Homo sapiens: one gene and its partners. The protein of the gene in region 1 purifies or fractionates together with the protein of each later gene. This does not show direct contact. Each region holds a gene or a part of one and is shown in the gene's direction. Other genes may lie near its edges.

The links.
Region 2: the proteins of ROS1 (region 1) and SCFD1 purify together in Homo sapiens (affinity purification with mass spectrometry; one large-scale study listed by BioGRID and IntAct). This does not show direct contact.
Region 3: the proteins of ROS1 (region 1) and OSBPL8 purify together in Homo sapiens (affinity purification with mass spectrometry; one large-scale study listed by BioGRID and IntAct). This does not show direct contact.
Region 4: the proteins of ROS1 (region 1) and ODAD3 purify together in Homo sapiens (affinity purification with mass spectrometry; one large-scale study listed by BioGRID and IntAct). This does not show direct contact.
Region 5: the proteins of ROS1 (region 1) and CLCC1 purify together in Homo sapiens (affinity purification with mass spectrometry; one large-scale study listed by BioGRID and IntAct). This does not show direct contact.
Region 6: the proteins of ROS1 (region 1) and DNAJC10 purify together in Homo sapiens (affinity purification with mass spectrometry; one large-scale study listed by BioGRID and IntAct). This does not show direct contact.
Region 7: the proteins of ROS1 (region 1) and COPB2 purify together in Homo sapiens (affinity purification with mass spectrometry; one large-scale study listed by BioGRID and IntAct). This does not show direct contact.

Annotation. Positions count from the first base shown.
Region 1 is NC_000006.12:117,387,943-117,391,442, reverse strand, and holds part of ROS1 (proto-oncogene tyrosine-protein kinase ROS isoform 3 precursor), read left to right. Parts: intron 1-1,596; coding exon 1,597-2,093; intron 2,094-3,408; coding exon of another isoform or gene 3,409-3,450; coding exon 3,451-3,500. UniProt on the Homo sapiens protein: Receptor tyrosine kinase (RTK) that plays a role in epithelial cell differentiation and regionalization of the proximal epididymal epithelium. NELL2 is an endogenous ligand for ROS1.
Region 2 is NC_000014.9:30,733,335-30,736,350, forward strand, and holds the end of SCFD1 (sec1 family domain-containing protein 1), read left to right. Parts: intron 1-1,455; coding exon 1,456-1,524; intron 1,525-2,251; coding exon 2,252-2,275; 3' UTR 2,276-2,516; downstream 2,517-3,016. UniProt on the Homo sapiens protein: Plays a role in SNARE-pin assembly and Golgi-to-ER retrograde transport via its interaction with COG4. Involved in vesicular transport between the endoplasmic reticulum and the Golgi.
Region 3 is NC_000012.12:76,388,772-76,392,271, reverse strand, and holds part of OSBPL8 (oxysterol-binding protein-related protein 8), read left to right. Parts: intron 1-1,614; coding exon 1,615-1,852; intron 1,853-2,442; coding exon 2,443-2,627; intron 2,628-3,500. UniProt on the Homo sapiens protein: Lipid transporter involved in lipid countertransport between the endoplasmic reticulum and the plasma membrane: specifically exchanges phosphatidylserine with phosphatidylinositol 4-phosphate (PI4P), delivering phosphatidylserine to the plasma membrane in exchange for PI4P, which is degraded by the SAC1/SACM1L phosphatase in the endoplasmic reticulum.
Region 4 is NC_000019.10:11,428,622-11,432,121, reverse strand, and holds part of ODAD3 (outer dynein arm-docking complex subunit 3), read left to right. Parts: intron 1-1,101; coding exon 1,102-1,223; intron 1,224-1,345; coding exon 1,346-1,423; intron 1,424-3,500. UniProt on the Homo sapiens protein: Component of the outer dynein arm-docking complex (ODA-DC) that mediates outer dynein arms (ODA) binding onto the doublet microtubule. Involved in mediating assembly of both ODAs and their axonemal docking complex onto ciliary microtubules.
Region 5 is NC_000001.11:108,932,485-108,935,984, reverse strand, and holds part of CLCC1 (chloride channel CLIC-like protein 1 isoform 1 precursor), read left to right. Parts: intron 1-1,042; coding exon 1,043-1,315; 3' UTR 1,316-1,360; exon of another isoform or gene 1,361-1,365; intron 1,366-1,439; exon of another isoform or gene 1,440-3,483; 3' UTR 3,484-3,500. UniProt on the Homo sapiens protein: Anion-selective channel with Ca(2+)-dependent and voltage-independent gating. Permeable to small monovalent anions with selectivity for bromide > chloride > nitrate > fluoride.
Region 6 is NC_000002.12:182,729,757-182,733,256, forward strand, and holds part of DNAJC10 (dnaJ homolog subfamily C member 10 isoform 1 precursor), read left to right. Parts: intron 1-91; coding exon 92-185; intron 186-1,273; coding exon 1,274-1,351; intron 1,352-2,742; coding exon 2,743-2,786; intron 2,787-3,500. UniProt on the Homo sapiens protein: Endoplasmic reticulum disulfide reductase involved both in the correct folding of proteins and degradation of misfolded proteins.
Region 7 is NC_000003.12:139,379,648-139,383,147, reverse strand, and holds part of COPB2 (coatomer subunit beta'), read left to right. Parts: intron 1-3,500. UniProt on the Homo sapiens protein: The coatomer is a cytosolic protein complex that binds to dilysine motifs and reversibly associates with Golgi non-clathrin-coated vesicles, which further mediate biosynthetic protein transport from the ER, via the Golgi up to the trans Golgi network.

The DNA of each region.
Region 1 (3,500 bases):
CTCCTCACTCTGTCCTCCTCTTCCCATGCACCAGATCTCTTCACCTTTTCTATTTTTCTTTCTCTTCCTCCCTGCTTCAATATAATAATTGTAATATTTACCACAGATAGTTTTCCTTTTATCTACTCTGAAATTCCTCCAAATTCCATTAACAATTTTGAATTTAGGAAACAAAAGCAGAAAATTAAGAGCCAAGCTGTTTTTGCTTTTTGCCTGCTACAATCCGTCCTCAGGGAAAAGAACATAGCTACATATCTCAAAATGGAGCTTATATCTCAGGATATTATTCTAGCATAGGAGTTTTGAGAAAATTGATCAAGATTTGGAATAGTCATCAAGGGGAATTAGAGCAGAACTAAATAAGGACAAGGAAAATGATTTGACAGTTTTGATGAGAGGTTGGAATGCTGCCAGTCCTTGGGGTTGGGATAAGAATTTATCAAAGTATACTTCTGTTAGCACCTTTCTCCATAATCACGAATTGTAAATTAGCTACATCCACATTAATGGTTTTATATTTTAGTTAAAAGTTTATTTACATATTTCATTGTCAATGAAATATTTTGGCAGTATGTTTTCTTTTTCATTATTAAAATAACCTGCCTCGTTACTGTGAGGTTTGACTTTAAATTAGATGTGCTTCTCTAATTCTTCCGTTGGCTTCTTTCTCCTGATTGCTGGATTTTCCTGCTTCAGTCATGTGTGGGGTATTTCTTTGTGGTTTATAAAATGGTAGCTCTATTGCCTGCATCAATTGTAGATTAAAAAAAATTAGTCCACTGCAAATGCAAAGTAGCCATGCTAGTTATAGCAAAATGATAACTGTACAATTAAAAATGGTTTAAATGTTTTACTTTCTTCCATTTATCACTCAGAATGCATGAGAAAATTTACTGATAAAATTAGACTTAAGGATGTGTGTTTTTTGGAGGAAAATGTTTGATAGTAAATACCATATTTAGCCATGTGATTTCTATATAGTATGTTTTCCTTTAAAATTTTGAAAGACCCTTCCTGGCCAGGGCTGGTGGCTAATGCCTGTAATCCCAGCACTTTGGGAAGCCAAGGTGTGCAGATCACTTGAGCCCAGGAGTTCAGGACTAGCTTGGGCAACACGGTGATACCCTGTCTCCACAAAAAATACAAAAATTAGCCGAGCACGGTGGCAAGCCTGTGGTCCCAGCTACATGGGATACTGAGGTGTGGGAGGATCACCTGAACCCAGGAGGTTGAGGCTGCAGTGAGCTGTGATTGTGTCACTGAACTCCAGCCTGGGTGACAGAGTAAGACCTTGTCTCAAAAAAATAAAAGACCCTTCCTGTTTTTGAATTTTTTGATTCCTTAAAAAGTCACTTATAATAATTAAGAGACTAAGCATTACAAGTGAGGCTGAAATTTTCTAATGTTCCAACTTGTAACTTAAACGAATAGAGTATATCTTAGGAAATTACCTTTTTCTACCTTGGAAAATCCTGTACTTAGCAACATCAGAGATACATAGTTCTGATTGTGCAACAGAATGAAGCAATTAGCTGAGGAGGTTACTCATCAACCTTTGGACTGAATCTCATGAGGTTTCTTTTGTTCCTGTGTCAGGTATGTCTTTTACCTCCTGAGAGATGGCATTTATAGAGCAGACCTTCCTGTACCATCTGGCCGGTGTGCAGAAGCTGTGCGTATTGTGGAGAGTTGCACGTTAAAGGACTTTGCAATCAAGCCACAAGCCAAGCGAATCATTTACTTCAATGACACTGCCCAAGTCTTCATGTCAACATTTCTGGATGGCTCTGCTTCCCATCTCATCCTACCTCGCATCCCCTTTGCTGATGTGAAAAGTTTTGCTTGTGAAAACAATGACTTTCTTGTCACAGATGGCAAGGTCATTTTCCAACAGGATGCTTTGTCTTTTAATGAATTCATCGTGGGATGTGACCTGAGTCACATAGAAGAATTTGGGTTTGGTAACTTGGTCATCTTTGGCTCATCCTCCCAGCTGCACCCTCTGCCAGGCCGCCCGCAGGAGCTTTCGGTGCTGTTTGGCTCTCACCAGGCTCTTGTTCAATGGAAGCCTCCTGCCCTTGCCATAGGAGCCAGTGAGTGCTCTGTCCCCAGTGTGGTTACTGGCCTTGCTGGAATAAGAGGAAGGTTTGAACTGCTTGGCGTTGTGATTCAATTTTGAGAGCCCCATTTGGCTATTCAGTCATCAACCAGAAGCAGCTACTTAGCTAAAAAAAAAGTTTATACATTTGTTCTGCATTTATTAGTTTTACATTAGGAGAATCTCTATACTTCTCATGTATATCCCAATAGAATAATTTGAACATTTATTGAGTGTCTGCTAAGATCCAGGCATTGACATTCTAGTCAGAACAAATAGCCAGGGAGATAGAATACTTGGGTTGAGATTTTTTGTGCTGTTGAAAGCTTGCATGAATTTCAGCAATTCCCTAAAACTCTGAACTCGAATCTCCATCTCTGGAGAGAGGTAGTATGTGGGTGGGTAAGCAGGTGGGCTCTGGAGTCAGCCTGCACGGATTCAAATACTTGCCATTTGTTAATAGAATGACCCTGGGCAAGTTACTAAACCACTCTGTGTCTCAGTTTCCACACCTGGAAATGGGGAATATTTATTATATCTTTTAATGGAACTGTTGTACAGATAAAATTAAAACACATTAGTAGAGCACTTAGAACAGTATCTAGCACAGAGGTCAGCAAACTTTTTCTGTAAAGGAAAGACCAGATAGTAAATATTTTTATTTACTTTGTGGGTCAGATGGTCCCTGTCAGCTACTCAATTATGTCGTTGTAGTGTGAAGACAGTCATAGATAATATGTAAATGAATAACTGTGGCTGTGTTCCATTACAACTTTATTTACAGAAACAGTGGGCCAGGTTTGGCCTGTGAGTGGAGTTTGCCAATCCCTGATCCCCTAGACGATAGTAAGTATTTAGAAAACATTGGCTGTTTTTGCTTTAGAACAAAGTTAATTATGTCTGTTTGCTGCATATCTCAAAGATGGCTGAAAATGAATAGGTAATTTTTTTTTATTGATTGGGCTTCTTGGAGGAAGGTACTATACAAACAGTGGTAATTACATTAAAGGTTCATCATTAAGCATTTTTTATTAAGAGCCTGATTATATCTATTAGTGTTGTAGAGAACCCCTCTGACAATTATATGCAGCAAGCATATAGCTTTGACTGAAGGACAGTCCTATTTGTTGGGAATGCTGTCTCCTTCAATGCAGCCAAATGAGCGGCATGAGGAATGAACACTGTCCTAGCCTCATCAACAAATGATCCCTGGTGATTATCGGGGTAGCGGATATTACTGCCCAATTGCTCTCCCATTTGAGATGAGGCTGTAGGTGAATTTATGGAGAATCCTTGGTTTGCCCTTGCAGATGTCATCCTGATCAGTGATATTATTGAACTCTTTGAATTAGGCCCTTCTGCCTGGCAGAACTGGACCTATGAGGTGAAAGTATCCACCCAA
Region 2 (3,016 bases), on another chromosome or scaffold:
GTAAGTAAAGGGGTCATCAAGCTTGTACATGATTAAGAACAAGTTTGCACTGGAATGTTTGGTAAACTACAGTGTTTCTTTAAAATTACACCTACACTTCATTGGATGGCTAAAAACGATTAGAAAAGAATGATGATGAGTAATTTGGTTAAGAAAGCTTGGTCCAGGGTGGGGACTGTACAAGTCAGGATTAATCTCAACTGGGCTACTGTACCCCTGTGCTTATCTCCAAGAATACCAGGATCCATGGTGCTGATGTTTAGCCAAACCTGAATGAAGTATTAACTAGTGATGAATTCTGGGCCTGGGCTAGAGACTACGATAAACCAGGGGGCAACCTTGGGCTGGCTTGCCAGCATTGTTTAATAGAAAATGTAAAGATTGATTTTACATTTTTCACCTGGTTTCTGTCATGTTCCCTTGGTTTCTGCAGTTGAGCCTGGTCATGCTGGTCATGCAGCCCAATTTTGCCTACCTGACCAGAGAGGCATAAAAGACCTCTCCTTGAACAAGAATCAGGTTCTCCTGGGAGCTATGCCTAGAAGTTCTGGACCCCTCTAATGTTTCCCTGTGCCTGCTTTCTCCTTGCATACTGTGACCTCTACCTTTAATTAATGCCTGTTAGCCACAAGAATCCCAATTATATGACCCATATACCATCTCATTTTGAAAAAAATATGAGTTGTGGCTTTTGTTTTATTTATTCTCAGAGATGGCCATCTAGGACATGTATTCAGCCAACAATATTTGCTCAGCTTATACATCACAGAGTTGTGTTACAAAGCCATCATTCCTCTGTCCTTTGATGAATCCTCAAATTACTTTGTTCTAGAATAAACTTTTTTATATTACAAAAGAAATCTCATGAATTTACCTTCAGGTTCACGATACATACAAGAAATTAGCAAATCGCTAATAGAGAAGTTTTGGCTGTTGTGATTGGGTTCCAACATTGTAACTGTGACTTTTATTCCTGATGTTGACAATGTGGAATGAGATGTATTAACTTATAAATACTGTGTTGCTCAAGTGAGACTAAAAGCACAATCCATGCCACCTGCACCATAGCCCACTTTCAGCATAAAGAAACTCGAATGTATTCTTCAAGTAGTACACATCCTACATTGGAAGAATGTTGTTCTAAGATTTTATAGGTAACTGTTGCTCCTGTGAAATTTGACAGTGAGATTCCTTCTATTTTTAGTGTAATAGGAAATGGCACCAATAGTATGCCATAGTATATATTTTGGGGGACAAAAATACTATGCTCATTTCACCACTTTATTCCTCTTTATTTCATGCAATTTTAGGTAGATGTGTATACTAAAATCCAACAGTATCCCAAAGAAAGACTGTTAAGAATAACAAAAAAACTAGCATATTAATCTCTTTTCTTGGGAATATTGAATATATTTCTTGTTACTTGTATCTAAGTTCTGACTCTGATTTTTACAGGGGAAACAAGGCAAACACATTTTATATGGCTGCAGTGAGCTTTTTAATGCTACACAGTTCATAAAACAGGTAAAGTATACATTTGTTGTTTGTTTCTGTTAACATACCCCTAGTTGCTATTGGTATTTTTCAAAAGAGAGAAAGAAAACCACTTACTCACCTGAACCAGCCGAAACCAAAGCCATCCAGCTATACCAAGATAAGGTGTTTTCATGGACGACTAAGAAAACCTTGATAAGTAATAATGTTTCCAGTAGGAGTTTGCCCATCCTTCCAGAACTGAAAGCCTTTTCTTTGGCTTTTAATGATCCTTTAGAAATACAAAAATATATGAGAACTGTCAGTAGTGTGTCACTCATGACATTTCTCTTTATATTGTCACAAAGTTAGCACTAATTTTTTTAATTCCCAGGGTTTTTCTTTTCCATCAATTGAACGTTACCTAATAATGTTTACATTTCTTTACTATGACGACGTTTATTGCAATTCCATTTTCTTTTCTTTTTCTTGGTAGAGACAGTCTCTTGCTATGTTGCCAAGGCTGGTCTCAAACTCCTGGCCTCAAGTGATCCTCCCACCTCAGCCTCCCAAATAGCTAGGATTACAGGCATGAGCCACCATGACCAGCCTTCAGTTTTAACATTTGAGTTAGTGGTGAACATTAAGATTTATTATTCTAGGAATGCAGTGAATAAAATAGGAAGTGTAATTTATTAAGGGGTTTACAAATATGTTTGAATGTTTCTTTTATGATCTTTTTTAAAAGTTTTATGTATGATTTTGTGTTTTGTTTTAGTTGTCACAACTTGGACAAAAGTAACACAGAAGAACCTTACTATGATAATCTACTTGGAATGTGGATAAATGTAAAAAGAAGAAAAGTTAGAAGAGCAATATGTTTCCTTCTCTGTAACAGTGTCCTAACAGTGAAAATCAGAGTTATTTGTTAATTTTTAAGGAAATTATATACTTAATATGTATTGATTAAAAGAAACATTTCAGAAATAAAATTTCAACATTGTTCATTTTCTCTGATAAATCAGAAAGTACTAATATAATAACTAATAGGTTATGATTGAAGCTGGTGACATTTTAAGGTTATCATATTTAAATTTTATTTGATTGGTTCGTGAGTCCCCTACTTGTATGCATTTTAATTATACAACTACTTTCTCATAGTTTGTTGGGTATCCATGTTGCCTATAGATTTTAGATGGAGATTTTAAGCCACTTTAAGTTCCCTTCTTCTGGCACACCTATGTATATTTTATCACATAAAGTCCCTCCTTCATGTAATGGTGATCAAGGCAACACTAACATGATTTGGAATGGACAAATACAAAACAGTCATCTCATAAAGTTGTAAATAATACGTAAAAGTTAGTGTTAAACTTGATTCCAAGCTTCTTTGGTATGCAGTACTGACAAGAAGTATTGATCAGTCATACCGTTCAGTACGTCTGTAAGATAAAAAGCAAGCCAATTGCTTGAAAGGGAAGAAAAATAAACACTTCCTATTATAAAGGCCAGGGAGCCTTCCCTCCTAATGAGCCTCATATCA
Region 3 (3,500 bases), on another chromosome or scaffold:
CTCCTGTCTATATATTCTTCAAGATCAGTCTCAAATATTACATCATGTGTGAAACCTTATAACTATGAGACATAATCTGTCTTTCTATAGAGTAACATGTTTTTAGTAATGGCACTGGACTTAACTCTACCTGGTATTTGTGAAATTCATTTATATTTCTGTTTGGAATGGAACTGTATCCTATTTGTGGTTTTATTCCCTGAAGCATTTATTGTAGTTAACACTAAAAAAGCATTTCTCCAAGGAAACTGGGCAGTAGTGCAAAGACTTTCTTGAGATTCAGGTCTTTTTGTTGCTTTGCAGGAAAAACATTAGACTTTTCTATTTCCTCCCTGTCCCCACCCCTTGGCTTCTGCTCTGTAACCACTTTCATCAGCATTGAGGTTGCTCTTCTCAAAGTTAGACTGCTATTCTCCTCTTCTTCATATTGCCTGATTTAGACATTTCTTCCCTATCATTTTGCTTGTTTCTTTTTTTTTTCTGTCTGTATTACTTTAAAAAATTTTTTAGAGCCAGGGACTCACTCTGTTGCCCAGGCTGCAGTGCAGTGGCACAATCATAGCTCACTGTAACCTGGAACTCCTGGGCTCAAGCCATCTTCCAGTCTCAACCTGCCCAGTAGTGAGAACTACAGGCCTGTATTACCACACTGGGCTGGCTGGCTGGCTTATCTATTTATTTATTTATTGAGACATAGTCTCACTATGTTGCCCAGGTTTTTTTTCTTTTCTTTTTTCCCCCACTCTCTTTAAAATCTCCATTACCTGACCTTTTATGTTATTTCTTTGCAGACCTACGATCTGGAGCTTTATCTTAATCCCAAGTACCTGGTGCCCGAATGAGATAGGATGGAATGGGGTGGGCTACTGATAGAGGAATGGGTATTTGTTGGAACCTCTTTCCAAGACTTTCCCCCTTTTGTACAGATTTTTTGCCCTAATCACTTTAAGTGAGAATAGGGTAGATTAAGCAAAACTTACTTGATTTTAGTCCATAGGTTAATTTCTTTCAGCTGAAATTTTCATTTTTAATTCTCTCTGGATTTTGGCTCAGGATTAAACCTTTCAGACGAATAGAATTTAATATAATTGTTTATCATTTACCATTTTCATATATTTTTCTTGGACTCATGTGAGGTGACTTTGGAAACCTTCTTATACAGGTGGAAAGTCATAATTTATTTGAGTTCAGTTGAGAATCTGATTATCTGGACCTGCATTTTTTCTTCATACCATAAGTGACAGTGAGATTGATGCAAGTGATGCTGTTTGAAAAACTAAGAAAAATATCTAACAAGAAGTCTAAACTCTTGGTTTTGGAGGATTTTAGCCCCAAGTGGTAGAGAGGCAAAGAGCTCAGAGTGTCATCTTTTTGCATTTCTCTAGGTTTTTAATTTTTCTATGCCTCTGTTTACTAATCTGTAAAATGAGAATAATAATACTACCTATCTCATAGGGTTATTTTGAAGATTAAGTGAATTAACACTATGTAAAACACTTAGAACACTGTCTGGCACATAGTAAATTCTCAATAAATGTTGTATATAATTATTATTTATGAATTGAGCATTCTTAACATCCTTGATTCTTCCTCCTAAAAATTCTTTCCCTTAAGGTTAAATGATAGTGAAATTGAACGACAACATTTTAAGGACCAAGATATGTATTCTGATAAATCTGATAAAGAAAATGATCAAGAACATGATGAGTCTGATAATGAGGTGATGGGGAAAAGTGAAGAAAGTGACACAGATACATCAGAAAGACAAGATGACTCATATATCGAACCTGAGCCTGTTGAGCCTTTAAAGGAGACTACCTACACTGAACAGAGCCATGAAGAACTTGGAGAGGTAAAAGTCTGCTATTTTTAGAGGTTCTGGATTTTCATATTCTTGGGAATTCTTAAATGAAATTGAAGATATTATTTGCTTGATCTATTGCCTATTTTTCTGTGATAGAATGTGATATTTTAAAAATTGCATACATATGAAATATATTGGGATTTACAAACAACTAAACACATATACTCACATAAATACCAATATATTCTATTAAATTTAAAGTTTACATTTTCTTCAAGCTTGATTTTGAAGTAGGATATTGCTTGATGTCATTGCCAGGTGCAAAGTTGCAAGGAAACGTGAGTTTATAACTTTGTTATTGCCAGTGCATCATAGAAGTAAATGTAGTATAAAATAATAGGCTATAATATTTTTGTAGTGGATCTCTTGTATATATTGTTCACTTTGATGTCTTTTTCAGCTACCCTTTTTTACCTAAGTTTTATAGCTATAGATTTTATTATTATTTTTTGTTTCCACATTTAAAGAATGCTTGGAGTAGTCCTGAGAAGAGTTCATATTTTCAACATTAGCTGGCTTGTTTACATATCTGTCTGAAATAAATATAATGTTTTGGTAATTTTCATTAATTGATAAAGGCAGGTGAGGCTTCTCAAACAGAAACTGTATCTGAAGAAAACAAAAGCCTTATCTGGACACTATTGAAACAAGTCCGTCCTGGCATGGACCTATCCAAGGTGGTTCTGCCTACATTTATTTTGGAACCCCGTTCTTTCCTGGATAAACTTTCAGATTACTACTATCATGCAGATTTCCTATCTGAGTAAGTAGATTCTTATTTCTTAAAATAGACAATACTTCATGATTTTAGAAATTCTCAAGAATGCTATTTTCAATTATCGTTTGTTTCCAAAATCAGGCTCTAATGAGACATCACTCTCTGTTCTCTACCACTTCTGTGGTTGACCCTTAGTAAGAAGCATGTTTGATACTTTGCTATAATGTTGCCATTTATGAAGTTAAATTGAGATATCATAAGCTCGAGGAAAACAAGAATTCTACCCTTTACTCAACAACACTGCCGTTATAGGCTCCTTAACCTCAGTTCACTAACCTAACAGAGAGAGAGAGGTGATTGGCATCATTTGTTCTCCTCTACAAAAACACTTGTTCAGTCCCATCCTGGGGCATCTGTGTTTGCTCATACTTGTCTGTCTGCATGCTTGTGAGGTATGTACGGCTTACCAGAACTAGAATGCCCTGCCAGTTGCTAGCTTTTGGAACAAATCCTTATTTTCTTTGCTTTTCTGAAGCCGCCAGCTGATCCTGGGTGTAATTTTGAAGAAGGCACACCTAAAGGAGGCAGAGGAGGTGCTATCCACCTCTGTCCCAGCAATTTCTTGGAAAACCAGTAAACTTTGCAAGGAACAGCAACTTTGTGTCCATGCTTCCAATTCTTACCTGATGCCCCTATTCCAGCAATAATGGTGTTTCAAGGCACTGTGCTTTCTGTGCCACTGATATCTGGCCCTGCGACCTAATTTTTAGAATCTTTATCAAGACTTATTTTCGGTTTTTGTCTATAAATGGCATGAGCGAACATTGAAAAAAATAAGCTGAGTCAAAAAATAATTGGTAAACTGGGAAATTTTTGCAAATTTCATCGTAGACAAAATGTTAACCTCCCTAAAAAAAG
Region 4 (3,500 bases), on another chromosome or scaffold:
TTTTGTTTTTTGAGACAGAGTCTTGCTCTGTTGCCCAGGCTGGAGTGCAGTGGCAGGATCTCAGCTCAATGCAACCTCCACCTCCAGAGGTCAAGTAATTATTGTGCCTCAGCCTCCTGTAGCTGGGATTACAGGCACCCACCATCATGCCCGGCTAATTTTTTTTTTTTTTTTTTTTTGAGGCAGAGTCTCGCTCTGTCACCCAGGCTGGAGTGCAGTGGTGCGATCTCGGCTCACTGCAAGCTCTGCCTCCCAGGTTCACACCATTCTCCTGCCTCAGTCCCCTGAGTAGCTGGGACTACAGGTGCCTGCCACCATGCACGGCTAATTTTTTTTTTTTTTTGTATTTTTAGTAGAGGCGGGATTTCACTATGTTAGCCAGGATGGTCTCGATCTCCTGACCTCGTGATCCGCTCACTTTGGCCTCCCAAAGTGCTGGGATTATGGACGTGAGCCACCGTGCCCGGCCATGCCCAGCTAATTTTTGTATTTTTGTAGAGATGGGGTTTCACCATGTTGGCCAGGCTGATCTTGAACTCTTGACCTCAGGTGATCCGCCCGCCTCTACCTCCCAAAGTGCAAGGATTACAGGAACGAGCCATCATGCTCAGCCTCACACCTGGCTAATTTTTGTATTTTTAGTAGAGATGCGGTTTTACCATGTTGGCCAGGCTGGTCAACGACTGCATTCTTATAATATTAAGTTGATGAGCCTGGCACAGTGGCTCACACCTATAATCCTAGGACTTTAGGGGGCCTAGAACTTTGGGAACACCTGAGGTCAGGAGTTCGAGACCAGCCTGACCAACATGGAGAAACCCCATGTCTACTAAAAATACAAAATTAGCCAGGTGTGGTGGTACATGCCTGTAATCCCAGCTACTTGGGAGGCTGAAGCAGGAGAATCTCTTGAACCCGGGAGGCGGAGGCTGTGGTGAGCCGAGATTGCACCATTGCACTGCAGCCTGGGCAACAAGAGTGAAACTCCATCTCAAAAAAAAAAAAAAAGTTGATGATTGCAAAAAAGGTCTTTCCTCTGGGATGTTGCACCCATGCACCCACCCAGTAACTGTGTGTCTGTCCACCTCACCTGCCTGCCAGAGGGTGACCGGAAGGCTTTTTTTGAGAGCTCTCAGTGGAACATCAAGAAGAACCAGGAGACCATCAGTCAGCTCCGCAAGGAGACTAAGGCACTGGAACTAAAGCTGCTGGACCTGCTCAAGGTAAGGGGCAAAGGGGTGGGTGTAGGGTTCCCGTGGCGGTGGATGGTGGGGGACAAGTAGGTAGCACCTGGCCTTAGCTGGAGGTGGCATGCTGAAAGGTGACTGGACTTCCCTCCTTGCAGGGAGATGAGAAAGTGGTCCAGGCAGTGATTCGCGAATGGAAGTGGGAGAAGCCATACCTGAAGAACAGGACAGGACAGGTTTGCCCACCCTCGCCCCACCTCCTCCTTCATTTCCAGCCTGGGTCCCCTCACCACTGGACTCCAGGCTCACCCTCTCCAATCCTTCCTGCACACTAGCTGCCATTCATGTGCTCATTCAATTAAATCTTTATTACTCACTTTCCTTGTATCTGGCATCCTGGCATGGTAGTAAATGCAGTGAAAAAGCAGACCAAGTCTCCACTTCTAAAAACAGCTCATATCCTAATAGGGAAAACAAGTTAAAAAAAAAAACATCACAGCCAGGCGCGGTGGCCCACGTCTGTAATCACAGCACTTTGGGAGGCCAAGGCGGGCAGATGACCTGAAGTCGGGAGTTCAAGACCAACCTGACCAACATGGAGAAACCCTGTCTCTACTAAAAATACAAAACTTAGCTGGGCATGATGGCACGTGCCTGTAATCCCAGCTACTCGGGAGGCTGAGGCAGGAGAATCGCTTGAACCCGGGAGGCAGAGGTTGCAGTGAGCCGAGATTGTGCCATTACACTCCAGCCTGGGCAACAAGAGCGAAACTCCGTCTCAAAAAATAAATAAAATAAAAATAATTAAAAAAAATAAAACATTTTAAAAGTCATTGAACCCAAGAGGCAGAGGTTGTAGTAAGCTGAGGTTGTGCCACTGTGCTCCAGCCTGGGAGACAGAGTGAGACTCAGTCTCAAAACAAACAAACGAAAACAATGACCAGTGGCACATGCCTGTAATCCCAGCTATTCAGGAGGCTGAGGCTGGAGGATTGCATGAGCCTAGAAGTTTGAGACTATAATGAGCCACAATTGCACCACTGCACTCCAGCCTGAGTGACAGTACAACCTGTTTCTTTAAAAAAAAAAAAAAAAAAGGCTGGGCGCGGTGGCTCACGCCCGTAATCCCAGCACTTTGGGAAACCGAGGCGGGTGGATCACGAGGTCAGGAGATCGAGCCCATCCTGGCTAACACGGTGAAACCCCGTCTCTACTAAAAATACAAAAGGCCGGGCGCGGTGGCTCATGCCTGTAATCCCAGCACTTTGGGAGGCCGAGGTGGGTGGATCACAAGGTCAGGAGTTCTAGACCAGCCTGGCCAAGATGGTGAAACCCTGTTTTTACTAAAAATACAAAAATTAGCCAGGTGTGGTGGCAGGCACCTGTAATCCCAGCTACTCAGGAGGCTGAGGCACAGAATTGCTTGAACCCAAGAGGCAGAAGTTGCAGTGAGCTGAGATCGCACCACTGCACTCCAGTCTGGGCGACAGAGTGAGACTCTGTCTCAAAAATAAATACATAAATAAAAAATAAAATAAAAATAAAAATACAAAAAATTAGCCAGGCATGGTGGTGGGCGCCTGTAGTCCCAGCTACTCAGGAGTCTGAGGCAGGAGAACAGTTTGAACCCGGGAGGCGGAGCTTGCAGTGAGCTGAGACTGGTGCCACTGCACTCCAACCTGGGTGACAGAGCGAGACTCTGTCTCAAAAAAACAAAAACAAACAAACAAACAAAAACAAAAGATAAAAAATTAAAGGCCGGGCGCGGTGGCTCACGCCTGTAATCCCAGCACTTTGGGAGGCTGAGGCGGGCGGATCACCTGAGGTCGGGCGTTTGAGACCAGCCTGGCCAACATGGCGAAACCCCGTCTCTACTAAAAATACAAAAAATTAGCCGGGCATGGTGGTGCATGCTTGTAATCCCAGCTACTCAGGAGGCTGACGCAGGAGAATCCCTTGAACCCGGGAGGTGGAGGTTGCTGTGAGCCGAGATCATGCCATTGCACTCCAGCCTGGGCAACTCTGTCTCAAAATAAATAAATAAATAAATAAATAAATAAATAAATAAATAAAAAATAAAACACAGTCTAGGCATGGTGGCTCATGCCTTGTAATACCAGCACTTTGGGAGGCCAAGGCTGGAGGATCACTTGAGCCCAAGAGTTTGAGACCAGCCTGCCAACATAGTGAAACTTTGACTCTACAACAAATACAGAAGATTTGCCAAATGTGGTGGCACAGGATTGTAGTCCCAGCTACTTGCCAGGCTGAGGTGGGAGGATCACCTGAACTGGGGAGGTCGAGGCTGCAGTG
Region 5 (3,500 bases), on another chromosome or scaffold:
TATTACAATGGCCTGGAAGCCTCCTTGGTCTCCCCTTCCCCCACATCCACTACCTCTCTGGTCACCTCTTCTCCCTCCGTGCTTACTCTACTTTAGCCATAAGGGCTCCTGACTGTTCCTTGAACTTGAGAGCCTTTGTACCTGCTGTTCATTCTACAGTCTTCATTTATATATCAATCATATGGTTACTTTCTTCAGGCCTTTACTCATTTTTATTATTTTTGGAGACAAGGTCTCACTCTGTGGTCAAGGCTGGGGTGCAGTGATCATAGCTCATTGCAGCCTCAAAATCCTGGGCTCAACCGATTCTTTTGCCTCAGCCTTCTGAGTAACTAGGACTATAGGCATATACGACCATGCCTGGCTAATATTTTTTATTTTTTGTGGATATGGGGTCTTGCTGTTACCCAGGCTGGTCTCAAACTCCTGGCCTCAAGCAGTCTTCTCACCTTGGCCTCCCAAAGTTATGGGATTACAGGTGTGAGCCACCATGCCTAACCATATCACTTTTTCAGACCACCCTAATTTAAACTGTAATTTGACCCTGCCAGCCCACCCACATTCAGCACTCATCTCTTCTCTGCTTTTTTTACATAGCCTCTTTAATTCAACATATCACACTTGTGTGATTTTCTTCTAACCTAAATATAAGTTCCAGTGAGAACAGTTTTATGTATTTTGTTCCTGCTGTATCCCTAACACCTAGAACTTAATATATGCTCAAGAAATATTTGTCAAATGAATTATTCTCACCAGGCAAGAGAAGTTGACAATACTGATGACCAATTCTCTTGACCCCTTCTAAGCTGGGCCACTAGACCACCCAGTATATGCGCTAAGCGTTCCCACTCCTCTGTGGGAGTACTGTGGAGTTTGGTGAGGTATAATAACATTTATATAATTATAACCCAGCACTGGACCCTGGATTTGAAAGAGTTTGGAGCTTGCTACAACGGATTTGGGTGGGAACTTTTTAGATATGTTTGATTACTAAGACTTCACATTACATTAAACAGTTAAAATGTAATTTTGTACTTTATAGCATAAATCACCTGTTTTGGATACAAAGCCCAAGGAGACAGGTGGAATCCTGGGGGAAGGCACACCGAAAGAAAGCAGTACTGAAAGCAGCCAGTCGGCCAAGCCTGTCTCTGGCCAAGACACATCAGGGAATACAGAAGGTTCACCCGCAGCGGAAAAGGCCCAGCTCAAGTCTGAAGCCGCAGGCAGCCCAGACCAAGGCAGCACATACAGCCCCGCAAGAGGTGTGGCTGGACCACGTGGACAGGATCCGGTCAGCAGCCCCTGTGGCTAGAGGAACACCAGCACAAACGACAGCCTCAAGTCTCCTTCGAGCTTTGTAAAGTATACTCTTCACTCTCTTTCTCTTCTCTGCAAGAATTCTGATTACTACAAAGGTGCCAACTTCAACATTCACATTTCAACTTCAACATTCACATTTTTACTGACAATTAGAATTAACAAACACGTTATATATGTAAAAGCTTTTCATTTCATCTTCTCTTTGATATTTACATCCCATAAAGTAAGAAGTGTTTATTTTAAGATGAACAGATGACAGGCATCACTGATTCTGGATAGTTAAGGAGGCCAGTTTGAATTGGGGACATTGAAAAAGAAATTTTATTGTTACAGGCACTTACGGGAACCCACTAACCAATTTACATTGCCTAGTGAATCCACTAGAGTTAAGGCCACCCACTTGATGCCTCCAGCATCTTCATGCAGCCATGGAGTATCGTTACCAGGATCAGTCTGACTGACACCTCAGCTTATCTCTACGCAGGCTGCCCACAGGTCACTGTGGCTGTAGTTTCATCTTTTCCACAGCTATTACTACGCCTGCATCCTTATTGTTCCTTTTACTTTGTTTACTTAGAGAAAACTGAAGACTGCCAGGGCAATTTAGATAACATAGCTTGTTATATTGGTAATCTGTTTTACAGAGTCAGTCGACTGAAAATGACTTTATTCTTTTCCCCCACCAATTGAAGTGCATGGGCTTTTTATAAAACCTATTTTTTGTGTTACTCAGAATCCTAGCAGTGGAGACTATTAGATATTACCATATCTTAATTCATATTATAGCAAATCATATTGTCTTGTCCATAGGAAGTTTGCATTTTTAGAGATCTATACATAGAGAATACCATGATGAGGAAGAAGAGAGTTGGGTGTCTTCCTTAACTGCAGACAGGACATCAGTCAGCACTTTACATTAGTCTTTCTGATTATCAAAAGCATTCCTCATTTTAAACTTTTTAAAAAGCAATGCATAAATTTTGTACCTGTCCTTAGCAGACTTCACAGACATCAGGTGTCCTTTGTTTTAACCATATTCACACTACAAGTTATGTTCAACTGCTTACTAAAAGTGATACCAGTCAGGAATAAAGTCTTTAAATTTTCATGCAGATATTTGTATCCCAAGCACTTGCTTTTTTATTTTAATATGAAATGCAGAATACACATTTTTGGATCCAGGAAGTGTTACTTACGTGCCTGTAACAATGTAATTTTAGGCCAGGTGCAGTGGCTCATGCCTACAGTCCTAGCACTTTGGAAGGTTGAGGGAGGATGATCGCTTAAGTTCAGTTGTTGAAATGCAGAATACACATTTTTGGATCCAGGAAGTGTTACTTACGTGCCTGTAACAATGTAATTTTAGGCCAGGTGCAGTGGCTCATGCCTACAGTCCTAGCACTTTGGAAGGTTGAGGGAGGATGATCGCTTAAGTTCAGTTGTTGAAATGCAGAATACACATTTTTGGATCCAGGAAGTGTTACTTACGTGCCTGTAACAATGTAATTTTAGGCCAGGTGCAGTGGCTCATGCCTACAGTCCTAGCACTTTGGAAGGTTGAGGGAGGATGATCGCTTAAGCTCAGTTGTTCAAGGCTATGTACTAAAAATAAAACTAGCCAGGCATGGTGGTACACGCCTGTAGTCCCAGCTACTTGGAGGGCTGAGGCAAGAGGATCGTGAGGTGGCAGTGAGTTATGATCGAGCCACTGTACTCCAGCCTGGGTGACAGAGCAAGACCTTGTCTCAAAATTATACATGTTAATATATTCTAGTTTAATATTGCAAACATCTTTAGAATTTCATCAGAAACGTGATTTTTTCTAAGAAATGCAAAAGGATTTTAGGATTTTTAACACAGAGGACATGTTTAACAAATGAATCCTGACAGACACCTGCAGTTTAGAATAAATTTGTGAACATCCATGCGTATAAAGTGTCCTCTTGGGACAAGACATGTTCACACTGACTTGGGGAATATGCCCCCAAGGTGAGAGCTGTCTTTTGAACTGTGATCTGACTCTGAAAAGTAGTGAATGCCCCAGGTGATAGACTGTAACTGTGAGTGGAATTAATGCTGCTTGCATGCCTTTTAATCCAAAACCAAATTCTTTTAAAAAATTTTTAAATAAAATTTCACCTTTGTATTCTTTCATTACAGATATCCATTTGGGGATG
Region 6 (3,500 bases), on another chromosome or scaffold:
ATAATGTAAAAATCAAACTCTTTGGTATTATTTTTATTGAGTTTTAAAAAGAAAAAGTAAAAGATGTTTCTCTTCTTACAAAAACCAATAGGCCCCAGTGAAATATCATGGAGACAGATCAAAGGAGAGTTTAGTGAGTTTTGCAATGCAGCATGTTAGAAGTACAGTGACAGAACTTTGGACAGGTAATTTTATTTTCTTAATTTGCTTGATTTTCAGGGTATTTTGAAATCAGTATTTTGTTTTTAATGGCAATATTAACATTTTGGTCATGGTATTGAAATTTTAAAGTGTCTTTTCCATGTTTCTTAGAAGGGAATTGTGTCATTTACTCTGAACTCTGCTGAATTTAACAAACTAGTTAAATTTTTACAGAAACTTGAACTATCGAGATATGGGAAATGGATATGAGATAGGGCTACGGTAAAAAAGGCATCTCTCAAAGTGCAAAAAATGTTTTGTAATACAAGTGTTTTATTGCTTTTTTAAATATGCTTATCAATCAGTAAATTCAAACCTATTCTGTTTAATTTTAAAGTTTAAAAATGCTTCTAATCTTAGGCTTTTAACTCATTAACTGCCTTTAGGCAGATTAAGCTAATAATAGTATTTGTGGCTCAAGATGTTCATTTTATTCATTGAGTAAAGTTACGTGTCAGAAACTATTAAATAGTGGGGCTGCAGTAATAAAATATATAGTCCCTGCCATCAGTGACTTCATTAGTGAGGAAAACATTAGTAAACAATTAAAATGCAATATAGGTACTATTATTATAGAGCTTAAGGGAGCATAAGATGTGTAAAACAACCCAGTTGGGGAAAAGAGAAAGAGTTAGAAAATACTTCTTGAAAGAAGTCATATCCAATCTGTCATGAAAATGAATAGGAAGCCTTAGGAGATCACTGTGTATTTGGGGAACTGGCAATACTTCATGAATCTGACAAAAAGATCAATAATTGGGTCAAGTGGTGTGGGGAAATATAATATAGCTGGCTAAATAGGTAGGCAAAGCTCAAGTCACAGGGGCCTAACTTGCCAATTTGAGTTTTTTTCTTAATGAAATAATGAATTTAGGTTTTATATGATGAAAAAATTGGAGAGCCATTGAAGGAATTTGTCATACTCAAGAGTATCTTTGGAAAGATAACTGGTAAAACTCAGAGTGGATTAGAAGAGGGTGAGATTAGAAAGGAAAAATTACTTAGAAGACTGTTTCCATTAGTAAAGGAGTAATAGGTGATCAGAATTTGCTTTTTTTCTTTTATTTTTAAGGAAATTTTGTCAACTCCATACAAACTGCTTTTGCTGCTGGTATTGGCTGGCTGATCACTTTTTGTTCAAAAGGAGGAGGTAATACTATTTTTTAATTTTGTTGGAATGAGAACATGACATTTAAATTTTTGGTGACAGTTTTAAGTATGCTACTGTAATTGATTATTAAGTACTAGAAACTACAATTTATGCCCAGGATTACAATTTTTTTACTTAATGAATATTCGCCTTTTTCATTATTTTACACATGAGGTTATTATTCATTTTTTAATGTATCCTCTATGTTTTTATGTTCAGTGGACCAGTTTTTCAGCTTAGACTCATGATAAATTGTACCTTCAGATAGCCACAGATGTTATTTGACAATTTGCAAAAATAACTAGTTGTTTACAGCTCTAACCCCTCCCAAAATAATAATTTTTTGGAAATATGGACTTTGCTTCATGCTTATATATATCTCTCAAACATACATAGATTTGCCTCATACAATTATATACTTGAAGATGACAGCTTCTTCTAGGAACCTTTCCTTGAATAAATTAAGTTGAAAATTCAGTACTCTGCATAGCAAGCCGTAAACTGTAAACTGTGTTCAAGCAATGTGGTTGGTTAAAAATTGTTCTAAGACAACAAAATATTATAACTCAATGTATTTGCATGTATTTAATCCCAACATGAGTCTTCTCCCCACATTTCATCTCTCAGCCTTCATGCTGCTATATTGAAAAGGTACTGCCTTGTAACTAAAATCAACCCATTACCCCATCCTGTAAGGCCTATGCTAGAAAGACACTGCCTTGCAGCAAAACGTCAGCCTTAAACTTAACTAATCACCAAGGGATTTTGTCTCATTTTGGCCTATTGCCCAAATTTCTGTTCATCCACACATGAACAAAAGTTCTTACATTCTCTGAGATTCTTTTACTTCTCACCTCAAGTAAATTGCTTCTCCCTGTCTTTGTAGGCTCTGTGATGCTATAGCTCTCTTTCTTCTAAATCTTCTCTCATTGTATTCTAGTGTTCATATTTGCAGAACTTTCATAAAAATAGTGAAGGCACTATTTAAAGATTTTATTGTATTTTGAGGATCCTTTATATACTTCTATCAAATATCTATTACATTTTATTTCCCCCCAATTTTGAGATCTCTTGGATAAAATGGATTGTTGATAGGAGGAGAGATTGAGAGTATTAACCTAAAGAGAGAAAATTACTTTTTCTCTGTAGCTAGACATCCTAGAAATTAAAGGGAGAGAATGAAAGAAAGAGGGAGCGAGGGAGTGTGTGTGTGTTTTTGTGTGTGTGTTTGTATGTGTGTGTGTGTAGAAGGATTTCCATATCTATCAATAGAGTCCAGCTCAATTAATTGCCTTCGAATGAACATGGTAATTTGGGGGAAAGGCAAATGCAAGTATTTTCATCAGGCTTAATAAAGGTAAAACTGCCTCATAAGGTTTTTTTGTCCCCAGATTGTTTGACTTCACAGACACGACTCAGGCTTAGTGGCATGTTGGTAAGCATCAATCATTTTGTAAAACTATATCACCATGTAAAGAAACACATTTAGAAATTGATTTGAAACATTTTCTTCCCTTATTTCTTGAACATTTAACTCACCTATTTGTAATCTTATTTTCTGATGACTGTATTCATAGCTATGTGTTTTTTCCTGAATAATTAGTTACGTTCAATAAATTTTAACGTGGTATCAATTCTAAGTGTCATTTACTTTGTAAGTATTCTGTAATTTATAAGTTCCTCTTCAACTGAAGTTACATGTTAGTGTTTTTGTCATTTCCCAACTTTATCTTTTGTTGTTTTCTTTTTTAGTCATTTTTAAATGTATATAGCTCTCATGTTATGGCTGGGAAGTAGCCTGAGTGATGTTGATTTTTTAACACCATTGAAATACCCTTTGTGGCTTTGTGGCTTGACAAAGCCACACAAATTGTCAGTTTTGAAAATTTTGGAAATTCTTTGTGAGCTTGAATATAATAATGTTATGTTAGGTGTAATATATGTTAGGTGTAGTATTACATTTATTAGATCAGATTTATTAATCATGTTATTTGTTTTTGGACTACATGATCTATAATTTCTAAGAGGGATGTATTAAAATCTCTACCATCCATCATTGATTTATCTATTTCTTATATTTCTGTCAGTTCTTCCTTTACATATTTTGACATTATATTGTTGGCAGCAGTATGATCATTATATCCTTTGG
Region 7 (3,500 bases), on another chromosome or scaffold:
ACATTTATGAGGGGATAGTTTGTAGGAGAAACTGTCCTGGGTATGTTATATACAATATTTAAATATAACAACTCTGACTTAGGTAGTATTAGCTCTTTTTTGAAATTGAGAAAACTGATGGTATTATAGAATCACTTGCTAAAGTATTTAATCGTTAGTTTTCCATTCAGTGAATACTCTATCTTAAGAATGATATCGTTAAATTTATTTTTCTCCCAGATGCCCAATATAATGATACACAGATAAATCTTTCACTCAGCCATATAGATTATATCAGGGAAATATTTATAGTCAGCTTTTGATTATACACACATCTTACAGATTGTCTGCCTGAATGCTTGACTCATTCTCTTTCACCTGAGTAAATAACATATCCTTCAAATTAGTTTGTCTCATATTTTCCAGTCTTCCTAGACTGTATTTAAGAGTACAAAGCATATAGTTAGCACTATACTATACAGTTGTGTCTACTTATATAGTAATTATCCTTAACGTCCAAAGTTAAGTTCTTGAAATCCAGGTAAAATTCGCATTTGAGGAATTTAAAATGGCAAAATGACATCAAGGAACCAAAGCCAGAAGTAAACCTAAAAACACCTTTATACTTTTATACTCACTGTAATGAAACAGAAATGACTGTACACTAAACTCATACCCTGTATTAGTCTGTTCTCACACTGCTGTAAAGAACTACCTGAGACTGGGTAATTTATGAAGGAAAGAGGTTTAATTGACTCACAGTTCCACAGGCTTAACAGGAAGCATGACTGGGAGGCCTCAGGAAACTTAAAATTTTGGCAGCAGGTGAAGGGGAAGCAAGCACCTTCTTCACATGATGGCAGGAGAGAGAGAGCAAAGTGGGAAGTGCCACACACTTTTAAACCATCAGATCTCATGAGAAGTCACTATCACGAGAACGGCAAGGGGGAAATCCACCCCCATGATCCAATCACCTCCCACCAGGGTCCTCCTCCAATTTGACATGAGATTTGGGTGGGGATACAAATCCAAACCATATCATAGTCCATCAGTGACATTTTATATAAATTAACATTTTGTTTTCTGCTGTATCTCAGTACCTATAACATTACCTGGCACATAGTAAATGCTCAATAATTATTTGTTCAACCAATGAATAATATGCATTTCACTTATCACTAGTTCAGTATTTGTGTTCTCTACAATTTCAGATCTTTATCTTGTGAATTGTTTTTGCTTTGATGCAAATAACTTTTTTTTTTTGCTTTTTGTTTAGTTCTTGAGATGTTTAAAATATTTCTGATTTTATGTTTAACAGATACGTTGGTGTCCTCTCTCTCTGATTATTCCTAGGGATTCCCTCTTATCAGCTACATTTACCTATCTCAGCTCTATCACTTGATCATCGTATGTTCTAAAGCCCAGGCGTACTTTTCTTATCTTTCTCTAGGCTTTATTGTAATATATCTCTGCTTTATCTGCATTTCCACTTTGCCTCCTTTTTCTCTTCTATACCTTTTTCTGCCCTATGACAGGACCATCTGCTTCCCCTTTCATAATTCATCTCAGTGGTAATTTCATGTTTAATTTCCTTCTTTCCTCTAAGAATGGAGGTTCTGTGAGGACAAGGATTACCCTCATCTTATTTCCCACTGTTGGTCCAGTGCATGAGGCACTACCTGATACACTGTCAGGCTCCTGGTAGATAGTAAGTCTTTGTTGAATGATTAATCTGTCTTTGATTCTCCCTGTTTTTTCCCTGTGTTTATATCACCAACAGCATTTACCACTCCTATATTGAGAGCAAATTCTTGAGAGAGCCAAAAAGGTTTTTGGAAGTAAAAAGGTTTTTAGATGTACTTGAATTTCAAATAAGGAGATGCTATATATTCTTTGAGGTGGTACATGCAGTGGTTTAAAAAACATAGTATTTTAGGATTTGAAGCCAACTTGCTGATTAAATTATATAGGCAAGCCTTTTAACCATGCTGAGCCTCTTTATTTATCTGAAGTGAAGATGATATTATTGCCTTGCCTACATCACAGGATTGTCAAAAAGATAAAATAAAATTAGATAAAATTGTGTATGAAACCTATAAAGTACCATATAAGTATTAGTCATTAGTTATACTTTCCTAATCTACGTTGAGTATTTGTATGTATTGTGTGTGTAGCTTTTCTTACTCTTTATTTGCATCAGTCATAGCCCCTAACATGGCGTTGAACCTTGGCTATTTCTTCTGCAGCTGCTTTATTTTTACTGCTCAGCAGATCCCTGGATTTGTTGGCTCCTCATGAGCTTTTGTGGATTTTTCTGCCGTGTTATAGATCGCATGTTGTGTCTACTCTCAGTTTCTGTATCATAGTCAGCTGGTAGTGATTCTACAGGTTAGAGTTGAAGTGCCTACTCATTCAGCCTTTGTCTAAAGAATCTTTGAACTCTGGCTTGAAAAGTCAGAGTAGGACAGTTCTTATGAACCGGTCCCTATTACTTTTTTAGTGCACATGGTTAATCAATCAGTAAGATTATATTGTGTTTCTTAGTTATTTCATTTTTGCTCTCTGATACAAAAAAGGATTAGAAAATGATAGTTTGACTTTCAGACTTTTAAGAACAGGCATCAAAGAAGGAGAACAAAGAGGTACCATGATCTCTGCTCTTTCTAGGAGGGTCTCTACCTTTATCCTATGTGTATAATTCCATTCTGAGCAGCTCGGAGGAACATATAAGTCACGGTGTTTTCATATTTTATTAAAAAGAAATAATAACATTTGTATGGAATCATATTGCTAAAGCATGCAAAAGAATTGTACCTTATTCATGAGTCACTTTTATGGGTTTCAATTTCAAAAAGACTGACTAGGTGCAGTGGCTCACGCCTGTAATCCCAGCACTTGGGAGGCTGAGACGGGTGGATCACTTGAGGCCAGGAGTTCGAGACTACCCTGGCCAACATGGTGAAACCCCGTCTGTACGAAAAATACAAAAATTTGCTTGGCATGGTGGTGCACACCTGTAATCCCAGCTACTTGGGTAACTGAAGCATGAGAATCACTTGAACCTGGGAGGCGGAGGTCGCAGTGAGCCAAGATTGTGCCACTGTACTGCACTTCAGCCTGGGTGACAGAGTAAGACTGTCTCAAAAAAAAAAAAAAAAAAAAAAAGAAAAGAAAAAAAGAAACTAAGAGCTAATTCATTCAACAAATATTTATTACACACTACTTGTGTGCCAGCCACTGTTCTATCCTCTGCCTATACAGTGTGAAAAATATTCCTGCCTTTGGAGAGCTTAGCAGGAAAGATTGGCACTAAACATAATTATGAGGTGCTACATTATGAAAGGGAAGTACAAGTTTCCATGGGTGGATTTTCAAGTCAGAGACAACAAGAGCAGAGGTGAGGCTGGGAGTAGCCAAAGGTGAGGCTGGAAAAGGGAGGGAAGGGCTGGAGCACAGAGGATCTGGAATACCATCTTGTGGATATTTGCCTTCTCTTATCTTTTAAAAAGTGTTTTAATTTC